4 linked regions of the Homo sapiens genome follow. The protein of the gene in region 2 purifies or fractionates together with the protein of the main gene of each other region. This does not show direct contact. Each region holds a gene or a part of one and is shown on either strand. Other genes may lie near its edges.

The links. Proteins that work in one complex are often made in the same cells at the same time.
Region 1: the proteins of IRF8 (region 2) and TPM4 purify together in Homo sapiens (affinity purification with mass spectrometry; one large-scale study listed by BioGRID and IntAct). This does not show direct contact.
Region 3: the proteins of IRF8 (region 2) and ETV6 purify together in Homo sapiens (affinity purification with mass spectrometry, with the first as the bait; one study listed by BioGRID). This does not show direct contact.
Region 4: the proteins of IRF8 (region 2) and CA10 purify together in Homo sapiens (co-immunoprecipitation; one large-scale study listed by IntAct). This does not show direct contact.

The regions. Positions count from the first base shown.
Region 1 is NC_000019.10:16,078,704-16,083,517, forward strand, and holds part of TPM4 (tropomyosin alpha-4 chain), read left to right. Parts: intron 1-2,211; exon of another isoform or gene 2,212-2,249; coding exon of another isoform or gene 2,250-2,372; intron 2,373-3,209; coding exon 3,210-3,343; intron 3,344-4,814. UniProt on the Homo sapiens protein: Binds to actin filaments in muscle and non-muscle cells. Plays a central role, in association with the troponin complex, in the calcium dependent regulation of vertebrate striated muscle contraction.
Region 2 is NC_000016.10:85,909,162-85,912,661, reverse strand, and holds part of IRF8 (interferon regulatory factor 8), read right to left. Parts: coding exon 3,489-3,500; intron 1,093-3,488; coding exon 1,004-1,092; intron 1-1,003. UniProt on the Homo sapiens protein: Transcription factor that specifically binds to the upstream regulatory region of type I interferon (IFN) and IFN-inducible MHC class I genes (the interferon consensus sequence (ICS)). Can both act as a transcriptional activator or repressor.
Region 3 is NC_000012.12:11,892,485-11,896,400, forward strand, and holds the end of ETV6 (transcription factor ETV6), read left to right. Parts: 3' UTR 1-2,893; downstream 2,894-3,916. UniProt on the Homo sapiens protein: Transcriptional repressor; binds to the DNA sequence 5'-CCGGAAGT-3'. Plays a role in hematopoiesis and malignant transformation.
Region 4 is NC_000017.11:51,630,192-51,635,005, reverse strand, and holds the end of CA10 (carbonic anhydrase-related protein 10 precursor), read left to right. Parts: intron 1-1,355; coding exon 1,356-1,530; intron 1,531-3,399; coding exon 3,400-3,422; 3' UTR 3,423-4,686; downstream 4,687-4,814. UniProt on the Homo sapiens protein: Does not have a catalytic activity.

The DNA.
Region 1 (4,814 bases), on a different chromosome or scaffold from region 2:
TTTTTGGAGAGTTGAAGACTTCTTGAAAAAGTTCGAAAAGTTCTTGAAAAAGCAAAGGATGCTTCTTTCCGTCTGGGAGAGGGAAAACCTCTCCCAGGGCAAAAGGAACTAAGACCAGGGGTGGGTTAAAAAAAAAAAAAAAAAAACCTTTCACTCTTGTAGAATAAGCCAGGAGCCGGCGTGTGGTAGACTTCTGGGCCTGTTTCCCGACAGCTGGTTTCGTTTAGATTTTTGTGTGATTAACTGACATCTTCCTGTTCCTTTGCCACATGTATCTAGCAAGCCTCTTTTACCTTATAAGGGAAATCCTTTGTAGCGTGTGGAAGGCTTTGATTGCAGGAAGGGGTGGAACCCAAAATGACTCGGCCGTGACTAGCAGTTTTTCAAAAATACATATATATGTATGCATGTACAGATATGCGTGTATCTCCCAACTCCAGACAGCTGAAAATCTGCCAAAAGCGTTGTTTGCCAGGATTCAGAATTTCCCACATAAGGGCTACTCACTTCTTAAAAGACAACTCATGAATCAAGCACCTCTGTTTGATCTTTAAAATCAATTCCTCGACTGCTAATGGGTACACAGTTTTTTGTTTGTTTGTTTGTCTTTGGCGGGTTATGAAAATGTCCTGGAATTCGATAATGGTGTTGGTTGCAGAGTGTTTTTGCAACATCAGTTCCTGGCCCAGTTACTGAAGGTGGTAGGAGGAGTTAAGATCTAGGCAATTAAAAAGAATGAAAGGCACCCATTCATGGGAAGGCCTCAGTGACGTTTCTTAAGACAGTTTCATCAGTGGTTTTCACAATTCTCTGCATTTGGTGTTTCAGAGGACACTGCAATACGAAACACCTGTGGGAGTGCCCTCTTTCTGCTTCTAGGAATCTGAGGCTGAGAAACCTTCCTGACTCTATTTGTGTAGTTTTTCGGCCACGTTAGCCTCATTCTATTTTTTTTTCCCCCAGTATGAACTCAGGGCAGGAGAGGGAGTGGTTTCCTAATAATTTTTTTTTTTTGAGACGGAATCTTGCTCTGTTACCCAGGCTGGAGTGCAGTGGCGCGATCTCGGCTCATTGCAACCTTCACCTCCCGGGTTCAAGCGATTCTCCTGCCTCAGCCTCCCAAGTAGCTGGGATTACAGGCGCCTGCCCCCACACCCAACTGATTTTTTTGTATTTTTAGTAGAGATGCGGTTTCACCATGTTGGCCAGGCTGGTCTCGAACTCCTGACCTCATGTGATCCACCCACCTCCGCCTCCCAAAGTGTTAGGATTACGGATGTGAGCCACCGCGCCCGGCCTTCCTAATAATTTTGATAGCCTTCCCCAGTTCAGGGATTCTTCATTTGTTCTGATAGGAAAAAGCTAGCGTGGCTTCCCTTTTCCTCTCGGTTGAGGCCCGTTTGACCCGTTCTCAATATTCCTTCCAAAGAGCAGGCATCGCTGGAAAACTCGCCTTGCCTCGTAGCCCTGGCAGGACCTAGGGGACAGGTTCTGACAAGGAAGAGCCCTGGGTGGGTCTTAAGAGGCCATTCATTTCTTACCAATTCTGAGTCACTGAATAAAACCACTTCCCCCAGTGGGGCCCCTCGGTTTCTTCACCTGTAAAATGGGTGCGATGTGTGAGGATGAAATTGCAGTAAAATAAAACCGTGGCAGTAAGAGATGCCTTTCTCTGGCACATCCCACCTGCTGGGCATAAGCGGCGCCACCCTCTGGAGTTACAGCCTCAAGGCAGTCCGGTAACTAATCAGGCTTTGGGATGGAGAGGGCCAGGATGAGGAAGCAACCTTCCCAACACCACGTGGCTGTGAAAATGACAAAGCACGGTCGGGCGCAGTGGCTCACGCCTGTAATCCCAGTACTTTGGGAGACCAAGGCGGGTGGATCACGTGAGGCCAGGAGTTTGAGACCAGCCTGACCAACAAGACGAAACCCTGTCTCTACTAAAAATACAAAAAAATAGCAAGGCGTGGTGGTGTCCGTCTGTAATCCCAGCTACTCAGGAGGCTGAGGCAGAATTGCTTGAACCCGGGAGGTAGAAGTTGCAGCAAGCCGAGATCATGCCATTGCACTCCAGCCTTGGTGACGGCGCAAGACTCCATCTCAAAAAAAAAATTAAAAAGAAAATGACAAAGCGGGGATTCCAGCCCAGCACTTTTTGGCCCTGGAGTTCCTGGTTTAATGCTTCCCATTGTACTTCCTTTCTTGTAGGTAAAAACACCTTGAAAAGCCAATAACACTATTGGGGTATGTCTTCCATGCCTGCAACCAAGTTTTCTTTCCCTTTCCATATCTTTTTGTCCTGCCATCTCTCAGCCAGGCGGATTGAAGGATGGAATTCCAACGAGGCTCCCCCGCCTCGTCCCACCTTGGTAATTGCATGGCCAACATTTAACTGAGGGCTCCATAGTCTTGCATTTATCTTGCCATTCAGGTGAATGGGAGCGGAACTCACAGGACACAATGAGCCGGGTCACTGATGGCCTTGCTTTCTAAGAATCTCACAGTGAGCCCTAGAACTCTCTACGTGGTAACACTGTGTGCCTTTTTCAGAGAAGAGCCTATCTTAGATCTTAGCCTAACGTTGGGTCTATTGTGTTGCTGGAGAGACCAGCACTGACATTCATCTCAAAGCACATGGTATGTTTGACTCCTATGTTGACTCAACTACCCATCTTGTACTGGGACACTCGCTTTTTTTTTTTTTTTTTGAGACGGAGTCTTGCTCTGTCACCAGGCTGGAGTGCAGTGGCACGATCTCAGCTCACGGCAACCTCCGCCTCCCGGGTTCAAGTGATTCTTCTGCCTCAGCCTCCTGAGCATGTGGAACTACAGGCACGTGCCACCACACTCAGCTAATTTTTCTATTTTTAGTAGAGACAGGGTTTCACCACGTTGGCCAGGATGGTCTCGATCTCTTGACCTTGTGATACACCCACCTCAGCCTCCCAAAGTGCTGGGATTACAGGCATGAGCCACCACGCTTGGCGATGCTCATCTTTTGCTATGGAGTGGTAGATGTTTTTCCCAGACATTTTCCGGGAAGATCATACTGAAATTTTGGTATGAGTGTAAATTCCCTATGGCCTGGACTCCTGGGTGGGCTTTGACGGGGAAGATCAGGTTAACAGAGGGCAGGACATGGGGGAGGCTCCCACTGGTGGCTGGCCTGATACTTCTTAACATGGCTGCACCTCCGACCTCCCCAGGCTGAAGGTGATGTGGCCGCCCTCAACCGACGCATCCAGCTCGTTGAGGAGGAGTTGGACAGGGCTCAGGAACGACTGGCCACGGCCCTGCAGAAGCTGGAGGAGGCAGAAAAAGCTGCAGATGAGAGTGAGAGGTAAGGACGCTTTGAATCTGGTGGCATCCGTGTTTGCTTTTAGAAAATGGGGATCATGCTGCCGACCTCGCAGAGCTGGTGTGAAAGTAAACAAGGTCACAAGGACATGCATGTGTCCACAAAAAAGTGCATGACAGCACTTTGTAAACCATCACTCCATGGGTAGAGATGTTTATCCGTGGCCAGGCACGGTGGCTCATGCCTGTAATCCCAGCACTTTGGGAGGCCAAGGCGGACGGATCACCTGAGGTTGGGAGTTTGAGACCAGCCTGGCCAACATGGTGAAACCCCGTCTTTCCTAAAAGTACAAAAAAATTAGCCTGCCATGGTGGCGGGCACCTGTAATCCCAGCTACTCAGGAGGCTGAGGCAAGAGAATCTCTTGAACCCAGGAGGCAGAGGCTGCAGTGAGCCGAGATCGTGCCATTGCACTCCAGCCTGGGCAACAAGAGCAAAACTCCATCTCAAAATAAAGTGAGGGGTGTTTATCCTTACGGTAACCATGAAAAGAAACTTCCGACAGACAGAAAGGCAAACAGAACGGGCAGATGTGAGACTGCAAGTATGACTGTCCATGGTGGTCAGTTTGCAAAGCACTGCTTCTCGTATTTTCTCTGAAAGCCACAGTGCCTCTTAGTGTTCTCTAGACACCAAATTTCAGGTAGGCCGGATGCAGTGATTCCTGCCTGTGCTCCCAGCACTTTGGGAGGCAGAGGCGGGCAAATCGCCTGAGCTCAGGAGTTCAAGACCAACTGGGGCAATGTGGTGAGACCCTGTCTCTACAAAAAATACAAAAATTAGCCGGGTGTGGTGGTGCACGCCTGTACTCCTGGCTACTCAAGAGGCTGAGGTGGGAGGATCACTTGACCCCAAGAGTTTGAAGCTGCAGTGAGGCAAGATTGTGCCACTGCACTCCAGCCTCAGTGACAGATGAGATTCTGTCTCAAAAAAAAAAAAAAAAAAAAAAAAGCAGAGTACTGTGGAGAGGAGGAAAGGAAACTTGGGATGCACAGGTGATTGTTAGCAGAGCTGTCAGGCTTTAGGCTTTTGGACGGTGACAGCTATTTCAGGGACAGTTGCAAACCAGCATGGTTAATGTACTTGCAACTGACCATGCACCAGGTGCCGTGGCTCACGCCTATAATCCCAGCACTTTGCGATGACGAGGCGGGTGGATCAACTGAGGTCAGGTGTTTGAGACCAGACTGGCCAACATGGTGAAACCCCGTCTCTATTAAAAATACACAAATTAGCTGGGCGTGGTGGCGGGCACCTGTAATCCCACCTACTCAGGAGGCTAAGGCAAGATCCCCCAGCTTGAACCCAGGAGGCAGAGGGTGCAGTGAGCCAAGATCGCACCACTGCACTCCAGCCTGGGCAACAGAGTGAGACTCTGTCTCAAAAAGAAACTGACCACGTTCCTCACCCGCCCATGGTATCTGTGCTGCAACCCAGCCACCAGTAGGGTGCCT
Region 2 (3,500 bases):
TTGCTTTTCTTGTGACCCCGGTGTGGCAATCCGATTATCTCACTCTCTCAGCTGAGTCAGCAGAAAAGCCTTCTACAGAAAACAGGACATTGGTGGAGGGCCACGAAGCCAAGAATTCACTCAGTCGGCTGCCAAAGACCACCCAGACACTTGGCAGCTGCCTGTGCAGAAGAGCAAGGCCGTTCGGGTAGGTTACATTCTGTTATCTTCATTCTCTGACAGCCAAGCTACTCTTAAGGATTCCATTATTGCTATGTTATTAAGAAGAAGAATTTATGCAGTACTCACACACAACCTTTTGCAAAGGCTGCACGAGGTTTAGTCATGCAAATGTCCACCTTGTAATACCCATGAAAAGCATAGTTAAGAGGCCAAAGACAGAAGAAAAGGGCATCCCAATAGCTGAAATGGGTATACAAAAGCCATGTATTCTTGCCTAAGGAGGCCCCGATTATGCTCTCCCTTGTAGCCTGTTAGGAATTTATGTGCAATGTGAACATGCTTGGTTATCCAGCTTTCCAATCCGTTAAGGAATAAAAACTGCACATTAAAAAGGAAGCAATCAAATAGCCATGAGAGCTGGTACAACAACACCCGCCATCATGACAAGCGCAGGCAGCAAGGAAAGTTTACATTTTGTTCTCTGTAGCCTGCTAGGAAGGCAAGGGAATTCACGATGCCATTTAAAAGACTGCTGTCCAAAGTGTTCGAACAGTTTGGAGCTGGAAGGAACTTCACTGACACATAACCGGCAGCTCAGGCCCAGCCCTAGGGATGAAGGAGGGATCTGGCGTGAGGGGTTGACCTGTCGGCAGAAGCTGGCCTGGGGAGGGGGCGCCCAGCCAGTCCTTCCGTTCCAGATCTGTACAGGTGGAGATGCCACTTCCTCAGCGAGCCCGAGGGTCTGGCTGCCTTCATACAGCAAGAACGGTGCCCCTCCCTGCCAGAAGACATGAGACTCCTCCTGGCAGGGCCAGACCCCTGAAATGCTGCCTCTGCTTACCTCCTTGATCAGCTCGTCGATTTCAGAGCGACCGCACTCCATCTCTGTAACTTCATTCACGCAGCCAGCAGTTGCCACGCCTAGTTTGCCTACAGAAAACCAGACAAACACCATGACACATGGCACGGAGGCATCACAGCCTTTGCTGAAGCCATAATCTACTCTGTAAATGCTGAGTTTAAGGAAACATTAAGTTAGTGAGTGTCTTCATTGGTTTGGGAAAGGCACAGAATTTTTTTCCCATGCTTCAGTCATCTGATCAGCAAAGTCAAAAGAGAGAAGTTGGTGGTGGTGGTGGTGGTGGTTGTTTCTGCTAACACTTTTAAAGGATAAAGACAGCACTTTGGTCTCTTTCTTCTATTTTCTGAGATCCAAAATGAGTCTGTATCAGATATACTTTACAGCAAGCATTTGCTAACTTAAGAAGGTTACATTTATAAGACAGGGCATTTGAAAACACTCACCGATTTCCTGGCAAAACGTGTTGGCAGGTTGGGGTCTTTTTTGTATTGCCAGTTGGCAGGAAATCTCTTTTTGGCCTTTCCAAATATACACATGTGCATCAGTGCACACAGCCATGCACACACACACACCGCAGCACCCTCACTGATGCCCAGTGGGCACCAGCCGTAATCACAAACCGCCTAAAGGTGCACAGTGTCCACAGGGGCACGCTGGGCCAGCCTCTGCTCTTTCCCTTCTCATGCCGCTTCCTCAGTCGACAACTTACCTTATGAAGTTTATCAGTGTGAGACGTATCACAACCAACACTTACAAAAATTCATTATTCCCAGTGACCTACAGAATTTACCCACTGTTTCCTCCTGGCTGAATTTTGATTCCATTTCGATAGATTAAAGAATTCACTGAGAAGCTACTGATGGGGAAGTAGGGAGCAGGTGGGGCGCCCACCATGGAGCCTGCAAACCACTGAGGTTAGAGGCGAGTGGGCCCCTGTAGGCAATTATGCAAATGCTACATTGCTTCACCCCTGAGAACCTCCTGCTGCTTCTTTAACATCACTAGCAGGTGATGCTGGCTGCACCCCATGCTATAAACAAGTTGGGGTCACCTGCCGGTTCAAGCCTGACTGATCTTGGGGGTGGCAGTAGGGGCCAAAAGAAACTTCTCTATTCCTTCAAATCACACTTTACTTTTTGGTGATAAAAAAAATTGTCCAAAACTGGGAAATGAGGCAAAAAGATGACTGCTTAGCCTTTCAGGGTCACCCCAGACTATTATATAGAGGTTTCCTCCTAAAGGGCACCCGATTCTCCAAGGGAAGGTCAGTTTGTTGGCCTTACTATTTAGTATTGACTAGGGTTCACGCTCAGTAGAGTTAGGTGCTAATTGCAGACGATTAGGCTACAAACGCCCCAAACCGCAATTGTACTGTCCGGGTCGGGCATCGGCTTTGGCTCAGCTTTCTCGTTCATGGGCCACATTCACCAGCACCTCGGATTCTCTGTCCACCATCTTTACCATCATGCTGCCTCCTTCATGACGATTACACAACTCTCTGACACAGATTCACTATAGATTTGTTTGAATCACCATTTTAACTTCTTAAAAAATTCTAAGTCAACACCCCCACAGCGGGAAGAGTGCAAACTTCAAACTTCTGCACAGCCCCAAGAAGTTTTGGGGGTTTCTGTTTCTTACAGGCATTCGTGGACTACTCAGAAGCTTAGAAGGAGAAAGCCAGAGTGGGTTATTCTAAAAGCCTCATCAAGTGGCTAAGAAAATCAATGTGTTAAAAGCATGTTCTAAACCAGCGCTGGTAATTAGGTTTTATCTCATAAATCAGCTACAATTCATGGCAGCGGCACAGCACAGGGCTTTGAGAAGCCTTCTGAGGCCAGATCCCAGCTCAGTACTTTGGGATTTATTTTAGTGATGTAGGACCAGGGTGCGGCATGTTTTTGCTGTCCTGCTTTAATCTGTCACAAATGCTTTCTTGGGATTTGAGAGCTGGAAGAAACCTCAGGAATGATCACATCCCGGAGTTCCCAAATAACAATCAGGATCTAGTAACACACTGAGGCATATCCCATCTCCAACAACGAAGGCCATGGTGCCATCTTTGACAACTTCATCTGAGAGCTTTACTCCCAACCCTCATGATCCAGGCCTTCTGTGGTCACCATATTTTCCCCTGGCCTCCTCTGCAAGCTGCTGGAAAATGAAAGGATTCCTCATCAGAAACTGCTGGAGGATGCTTGTTCCTGTCCAGGGAGGCCCTACAAATGTCTGTGGTCAGGCAGCAAGTGGGGCACAGGTTGGGCAGCACCCAATCTCCTCCGCCCTTCCCTCTGAGGTCACTGGAAAGAGATCTCAATTTCTGCTTACACGAAGGAGAGAACTGCTTTGTTTAACTGAAACTATGTGCCCCAGACCCTGTGTCTACCCCAGACCCAAGTTCTGTGGTGAAGGCTACAGGCCAGGGCAGCTTCTGGAAGGTTTCATGCCCATAAAGGATAGTTACATTTTTGCTCTT
Region 3 (3,916 bases), on a different chromosome or scaffold from region 2:
TTTTGAAAGCTGTTTTAGATTTTTTTTTTTTTTCCTTTTCTAGCCATCTAAATTGACTCTTCCAATATAGGTCTCAGAAATCCAATATTTGGAGTACAATTTCTTTTAATCCAGATTACACCTGCCTTACAAAGCACCCCCTCCTTGTTCCCCTCTGTTTCCTCTACTCAGTTGGGGGAGAAACTCACAGCTCCTCCGGGATACATATGTGCCCTCAGCAGCAGCTCCCAGGTGAAGTTACCAGACCCCTGGGCTTCTCCCCAGCTTTTTCTGAGTTGAGTCAGACATGTAGAGTTTGGGTCACACAGGCAAGAGGAATTTTCCCTCGGCCTTACTGACAAGGACACCAACCTAGGGTGCAAACAGATGGACTATGGTTCAAGGACACTGGAATTGAGGAGCTGATCAAGGCTCTCTTCAGCCTTGCTCTGTCCCTGCCTCTTATCAGAGCACAGGTAGACACACGGGCATAGCCAGCCCACTCCTACTGTCACAGGCGCCCCACCATTCAACCTTCCGGGAGGTCAGGGACCTTCTATATGAGGCGAGTGGGTCTCAGTCTGCTTGAATGGTGATGAGATTCTGCTGGATCTCAGCACGCTGCAGGTGTCTTTTGAGAGCATTCAGTAGGACATGGTGATCCCTATTTCAGCCTCTAAGATGACTGGTATTCTATCTGAAATGCAGAGATTAAGCCAAATACCTGATGTATTGTGAAAGCCACTGATTTTAAGAATGGAGAGAAAGGGATTTTTTACTGCATCCCTCTGTATGAATATGAAATCAGAGACCAGGGCATGATGTTGCTAGGATTAGAGCCTCTCAGTCTGGCCTCTTCACCCAAGTGCAAGAACTCAGTCTCTTACTGTTCAAAGAATCTTAACAGTTGAATTATGGAGGGAAATTCCCTTTTGCCCCAAGCATTTCTATATTTAAAGCAATATCCCAGGAGAATATGTTAGACTTAGGATGATACCTTCAGCCACTTGAAGAAGAAATAGAAGGCGCTCATTCCAATATAGTCTTTATTTCCCATTCAGATACAGGTTGAGCATCCCTAATCTGAACAGTTAAAACCCCCAAATGCCCCAAAATCCAAACCTTCCTGAACGCTATGACACCATGAGTGGAAAATTCCACACCTAACAAACACATTTGCTTTCTTATGGTTCAATGTACACAAACTGTTTTATATAGAAAATGATTTCAAATATCATAAAATTACCTTCAGGCTATGTGTATAAAGTATATATGAGCCATAAATGAATTTTGTGTTTAGACTTTGTGTCCATCCCCAAGATCTCTCATTTTATATATATATATATATATATATATATATATATATATATATATATATACACACACACACACATACACAAATATTCCAGGATACAAAAAAAAACATTTAAAAATCCGAGACCCAGAACACTTCTGGTCCCAAGCATTTCAGATAAGGGATATCAATCTGTACTACCAATAAGGATTTCGTAATTCCCCTAACTGCAAATGTCCTCTTCATTTGTTCTTTATGAGAAAACCCGGGTAGTGCCAGCACCTGGATACAGTATTTACACCCTGCAGACCCTAAAGATTTCAGATTCAGTTAGCAAACCTTGATGAAGCACCTGCTGGACACTGAGGGACCCAAAGCTCAATCAGCCATAATCCCTGCTTTCAGAGTTTATATTGTACCTGCCTAATCCACCCGGCGTGACTCATTTCAACACTAAGTACTAGGGGTGTTGTCAGGAGACAAATCTGAAGTCAGGAGAGGAAAATGCAAAGGAGCCCTGCCGTGTGATGGATGTGCATTCTCACTTGGGTCTTGAAGTTCTCATTCCTACATCTCAAGCTAGCCAGGCAGTCTCCTCTCTATCAGAAGAAAGCACTGGTAATTGGCTAGACTGGCTATGTTGAAGGTAACATGAACTCTAAGATCTTGACCCAGGGCGACTTGGTTTTGCTTAAGGTGGCATCACCAATGTTCCAAATCCTTTAGGGAGATGAGGGTATCCCCACAGAAAAAGAGGAATAATAGACCAATGGATTTTCTCCTTTCACCAGTATGTTTGGAACCCTCTGATCCAATGTCTTTTGATACTGATCTCTTGTCCAAATGAGAATGTCGCTTTAGCTGAAATTCAAATGGCTGTGACAATTTACCGAAATGATGAAGTAACCACCATTCCCACCTTTCACTGCCTAGGCTCCAAGTCTGAATACATTTTTGAAATAGGAACTCCCTTTTGCAAAAAAGAAACCTGGGTGTCAGGGAGGTGAAGTGACTTGCCCTAGGAGCAGACAGCATGCCAAGAATGGAATTAGGCTCAGGATCCAGCCTGGGCTCACCCTGTGTGGCTCATTCCCACCCAGGAAACTGAAGATAAAAGATTTGGGAAAACACACCAAGAAAAAGGGGCAGTTTTCTTTGCCCAAGCATTTGGTGCTAGTTAGAGGCTGTTCACTCTCTCCTGCTCCTCTTCGGAGTAGAAATAAAGGCTGTGACACAAGGAAGCCAGTGGGGTGGGAGGGAGGCACCATAATCCCTCCCTAAAACCCACAGAAGACTAACCTGATACTCTTTTGACCCAACTGCATCAACACTAAACAGCTGCAGACCCCCTGAATCTTTCACACATGCCAAGTGAACATTCTTGATGATTTCTCTTTGTGACCGCAACCACCTGCAAACCAGAACGACTCTAGAATTTCCTTCCCCGCCCCCCTTTTTGTTTAGTTTCTAATCTCTTGTTTATGAGGTGTGGGGTTTATAAGGGACTGAATCAAATGAATGTAACAAAAAAGAAAAAAAAAACAAAAAAAAATGCCTTTTCTCAGGGCCAGTGAGTTGCAAATAATTTTTAAAGAAAAGCCTATAATTACATCATCTCAATAAATTTTTTATAAAAAAAAAAAAACCATGAAGTCCAGAGTCTCTGTTTTTAATAATATGAAATGGAGTCAGACAAGGTGCTCCGATGAGGTAAATCCTGTCTCCACTCAATTATGGTATAAAGGGCAATCATGGTTTTTCTCTGGCAGCAAGTCTCCGCTGCAGGGCAGTCTGCAGGCGATCTTTAGACAAGTGGTACCGGAAAGGTCAGAGTGAACCATTCCAAGCTGAGCAGCTGCCACAGGTGGAAGAATTACCAAGAGGAACCGTGATCAGAGATGCTTGGGTCCCATGCTGTGGTGAAGGTTTATTAGCTCACTGAGAACTTAGCAATGCCAGGTCCTCACACAATAGAATTGCCCCTTAAATCTGCTGAGATCAGAGGTCTAAGCCTACCAGGTGATGAAGGCGTAAGGGCTGGGATAGATCCTATGACTAAATACAGGACTGTAATGACCTAGAAGGTCATCACACAGCTCAGAGCCAGCCCACATGCTCAGAATGTCCCAGCCAACCTGACCAACAGAGCCACCCACCAACCAGTGGGCACTTGGGAGTTCAAGATCAAACATTCTGCACTTGACCAGAACTATCTGCCATCAGAAGTGGGTGGAAACAAGGGGAAGAATGGAAGAGGAAGCAAATGCATTGCTGTTGAGCAAATTGGGCGGAGGTTCAAAATGTCTAAGAAATCAGCAGTCTCAGAAAATGTTCTTAGTTTACTTTTGTCTTTAGGTTAACCCAGTTACTCTGTATCCCCTGAGAATGATTGCTGAAATTTGGCCCTATATTCTGTATGATCAGAGCACAGTATCAAATAAGGGTCTAGATATTTTTTTTGTGGTGCTAAAAATGCATTCGAAGCTACTATTTCTATAATGCAGCATTAGAGAACTTGCTAGAAATGCAAATTATCAGTTCCCACCCCATAAACTGAATCAGAAACTTTGGAGCTGGGACCCAGCAGTATGTTTTAACAAGCACTCTGGGTGATTCTGATGCACACAAAAGTCTGAGAGTCAC
Region 4 (4,814 bases), on a different chromosome or scaffold from region 2:
ATATGCCTGGGTTTAAAGAGCCAGCATCCAAAAGGCTTAGCCTGAGCTAATTATAGAAGCATCTCAACTGTCTCAGTGGGAAAAGATAGCCATTAATTCCCAGAGTGTATTCTACAACTACAGTGTTCAGAAAGCAAGCAAGCAAAATGGAAGATGTCATTATGCATTTGAAAAAGTTGGGTTTTAAAAAGTTAAATAGATTCCATTGTTGAAGGATTTCTGGGGTCCTTCTTAAATGCTAATATATGTGTCAGTCTTCAAGAGGAAGTGGTATGATATGTAGTATTTTGCACACATATTTGAATGTGCAGTGTTTTTTTTGGATCATCTCACAGAGTTAGTACTCATCAGAACTGGATGGGAGGCAGATGGGTCCTCCTGTGTGAGCTTGGCTACACGGCTTATTGTGCTCTTCAGGCCTGTCACCCACCTCTATGAAATGAACACTCCTCTTCTTTATTGAGAGGGGGATAAATTACATGAGTTTGCTCCAGCTCTGACATTCTACGACTGTGGGAGTCTATAACAAATTAAAGGAGAGATGAGCAAAGGAAGCAGAAGCCAATATCCTTGACGGGATATGTGTTCCCACCTGACCACCATTTGAACAATTTGAAGTTCCTTAACCTATCTGTATTGAATGGGACCCACTGGGTGACAGGCAACAGTAACTCCCCACTTAAGCTTAGAAAAAGCATTTATTTGAGAGCTACGAGGGCATCTTAGAGAATTTAAAATCAGAAATTGACATCAGAAATTCACTGAAATGGGAACCCCAGAAGTGCTTTCTCTCTGTTGTCCTCTTCTCACCACACATTCACTTCATTCTTCTCTCCTGCTAGAGACCGTCTTCTTTTGCCTCACAGTCCTGTGGCAGAACATGGCTGCAAACAGTCCAGCCACCTGGCCCTCATAGTCTCACAGAAAAGAAACCAAACTGGTCCAGCTTAGTTTAGCTCTGACCCATGGACCAATCACTATGATCCACGTAATACCATGTGGGAGTCATGGAATTATTGAACCAAAGAGTATCAAAGAAAGAAAGAACCTTAGAGAAACCTAACCAGATTTGCTCCTTTTTTGGATGCTGCATTTGAGGGTGAGAGAGCGCAAGTGACTTGTTCAGAGGCATACACAAGCTAGTAAGCTAGAAGAAAGGCTGGCTTCATGTGTGGAGGTATAATGGGCCTTCAGCTCAACTGAACCCATGGAAAAAAGGGACTCTGTGGGGCTTATACAGCCCTTTCCTCATACAGCCAATACCACCTAGCTTGGCCAGAGTCTCTGTGGTCTTATTTCTTCCCTAGTGCATTTAAGAGGATGGTTGGATCTCACGGCCACTTCTCTCTCCTCAGATGCATTCCTTGCGCCTGCTCAGCCAGAACCAGCCATCTCAGATCTTTCTGAGCATGAGTGACAACTTCAGGCCTGTCCAGCCACTCAACAACCGCTGCATCCGCACCAATATCAACTTCAGTTTACAGGGGAAGGACTGTCCAAACAACCGAGCCCAGAAGCTTCAGTATAGAGGTGGGTTTGGTGGCTCAGAGAGTGGAGGATCTAGGCTAGAGCTCAGTCTTTCTGCTTAGACCTGTTCTTAAAGGCCTGGCATTATCTTCCATTATAGGAATGATGACTGTAAATGACAATAGCCATCACACTCCATTTGCATGGTGATGAAGGTCTAAAGTTTTGATATATGTGATACAGATACCTGTATGAATGCATCTAGGTAGGTTGGTAGGTAGGTAAGTAAGTGGATGGATGGATGGATGGACGGTAGGTAGATGGCAAGGTGTAGAGGTTTGATATATGTGAGATATATATATATGTAACCTTTAAACACATATATCAAACCTTTAAAACCCCTGTAGATCAGGCAAGACAGCTTTTTATTGCCATTTTTCAAAAGAGCCCAGAAAGGCTGATGTTCCCAAGGTTATCTGTTAGAACAGGACAGTGAAAAGCATTAGAGCTTTTAAGTATATGGAAGAAAGACCTGCTTTCCCCTAGAAGATGAACAAATACTCTAAAGGGCAGGCCATTAGAATCCAATGGGGTAATTTGTGAGTGTATCTTTGCCCAGTGCTATGTCCCTAGAAATGGTTATTATTCCCACTAAAGGGGACATTTAAGTTGACATCTGCCTCCTGTAACTCTGTGGTGCACACCCAGCCCTCTCTCTCTTCCCTTCTGCTTACTACTAAACATCTGTTAATCATTGTGGTAAACACTCAGTGTGGAAAGAAAGATGGAGGAAGGATGGGGTCTTGGAGAGCCCTGGACTGGAAATCAGGACACCCAAGTTCTGGGCCTAGTTCTAACAAGCTGTGCAAACCCAGCCACATTGTTTACCCCCTAGACCTGGCTTCTTCGTGACAGTTCCTATGCCATCTACTTCACAGTTTGTTAAAGGAAGCAAACAAGAGCCTGGATAGGGAAGCCCTTTGTAGCAATAACATGCTCCCCAAATAGGAGGGCTGTGGTTATTACCAGACAGCTTTTAGAAGCAGCCTCCACCACTACTCCTTGATCCTCCACTTCATTCCTCCTACTTCCCCCTTGTTCCCTTCTTTTTTCTCTCTCAGATACACTTGCATGCCCAAACTACATATTTTCCACACCCTTCCAGCCGGAACTACCAGAAAAGTAAATACCTAACTCATTCATTGCTTCTTCTCTTTAGTCAAAACCCCTGTATTGTGTTCCTACCATGTGTCAGTTAGCTGGGTGATGGGTGACAGATAAGACACCTATCCAAACAGAGCATATGGTCTACAACAGGAGTCTACACACTTTTTCTATAAAGGACAGAGAGTAAATATGTTAAGTTTTGAAGCCATAAAATCTCTATGGCACTCTGACATTGTAGTATGAAATCAGCCATTGATAATATCTAAATGAATGGGTATGGCTGTGTTCCAATAAAACTTTATTTATAAAAACAGGTATTGTGCTGGATTAGATCTGTGGACTGTTGTTTTTCCATCCCTAGCCTAGAGCAGTGTCATCCACTAGAACTTTCTGTGGTAATGGGAATGTTTTCATGATAGGTTGATGACTATCCTGCACTGCCCAATACAGCAGCTACTAGCCATATGTGGCTATTGAACATTGGATGGGTGACTAGTACAATGATGCAACTAATTTTTTATTTTAATTAATTTAAATTCATAGTAGCCACATATGGCAGCTAGTGGCCACCATATTGGTCAGTATAGGCCTAGAAGGTCATGGAGAATTGGAAGGGAGTAGTTGGAATGCATATAAGTAAGCAGGCATTTACAAAACAGTCCCTTCCCCTCTGGAGGAATTCTCTAAAACTGTGTGCAAATTAATTGAGTATGCCTCGTTTTATGTTGTATGTGTGATTTTTTTTTTCTTTCTCTCTCTTTGCAGTAAATGAATGGCTCCTCAAGTAGGGAACAAAGCCAAGAAGAATCCCACCTCAGTGAAATGCTACAACTGTGAATTGACGTAACCTAGAATGTCCCCCTTCTTGCTTCTCTCTCCTTCTTTCCCCCAAGCCTCATTCATTCTTGGGATTGGCCCTTTCTTCATGAAAAGTGTCTGCAAAACCATGGCAGAGGAATACATCTCTCACACATACTCACAAACACACACACAAGCACTTGCACATACATACAAACACATGCAAACATACCTACACACACACACACTCTTACAACCTCCATCATGGGAAGTCAAGTTTCAGAAACAAAAGTCTCATTCATAAGAGGTCTTAGAAGAAAATAACCAGTTAACCTGATTTCAATTTTGATACCGTTTTCCTGAACTAATAAATCTACCCAATGAGACTTTTCAGCCTTTGTACATACAAAATTCTTCCAAAAGAGAGAGGAGAAAATACAGCTCTGATGGCATCAAACGGACTTTGCATCAAGTAATTTCAGATAGTGTCCTAGGATCCTTTGAGGGTGCTGGTAGCAGGTGAGCAGGACAAAGTTGACCAAGGACACTTATTTCTAGATTATGATTCTTCTGTTTACTCAACAATTTACAAAGAAAAAAAGGACAGACATTGAAGAGCTACACATTGTATATATATCACCACAGACTATAAGGAAATGGAATTATTTCCCTCTTTGTCACATATCTGTAGTAGGATTTGCCAAGATCAGAAATGATCCATTTGCTGTTTCTTGTTTTCCAAAGGTCATACATTGTGTTTGGTTATTGTTACCAGCTCAATAAATGTGTTTAACGAGTTAATTTCATTTTTCTGGCTTTGGTCTGTTCTCCTTCCTTACAGGCTAAGCCCTGGCTCCATGCAACTGCATTCTTTGATTTCACTTGTTCCTTCATCTACATGTTTTGTTCATTTGCAGCCAGTTTTTACTGAGTTTGTGGCAATCAGGAATGCATTTGCTAAGCAAGTATGACTTTAATTCCACTCCATGGCTCAATCATTCACATGAGGTGAGCTTCAGCCTGAGATAGCAGGCGACAGACTTCTTGCGTTTCAAAACTGCCATGCCCCCCTGTGATGCTCCCGTGAAGGAATGCACTTTGCCTTGTAAGTTCCTGGGAAAGGGGTATGTTTTCTCTCCAGGTGCAGCCAGATCTCACAAAGTACAAAACGAATGCCTTTCTTTTCTTGTTTATAATGGTCACTCACTGTGTTTGGTTACTGTCAAGAAATCAATAAATGTGTTTAACAAGTTACCCAGTACCCATGTCTGACTTTATTGAGAAAGAGGATGCTCCCTGCTGAAGTCTCTGAGTCCTGCTGGGTGCAGGAGCAATTGCATACGGGGCTGGCAGGGCATCCAGAACAGCCTGTCTAGCCATTC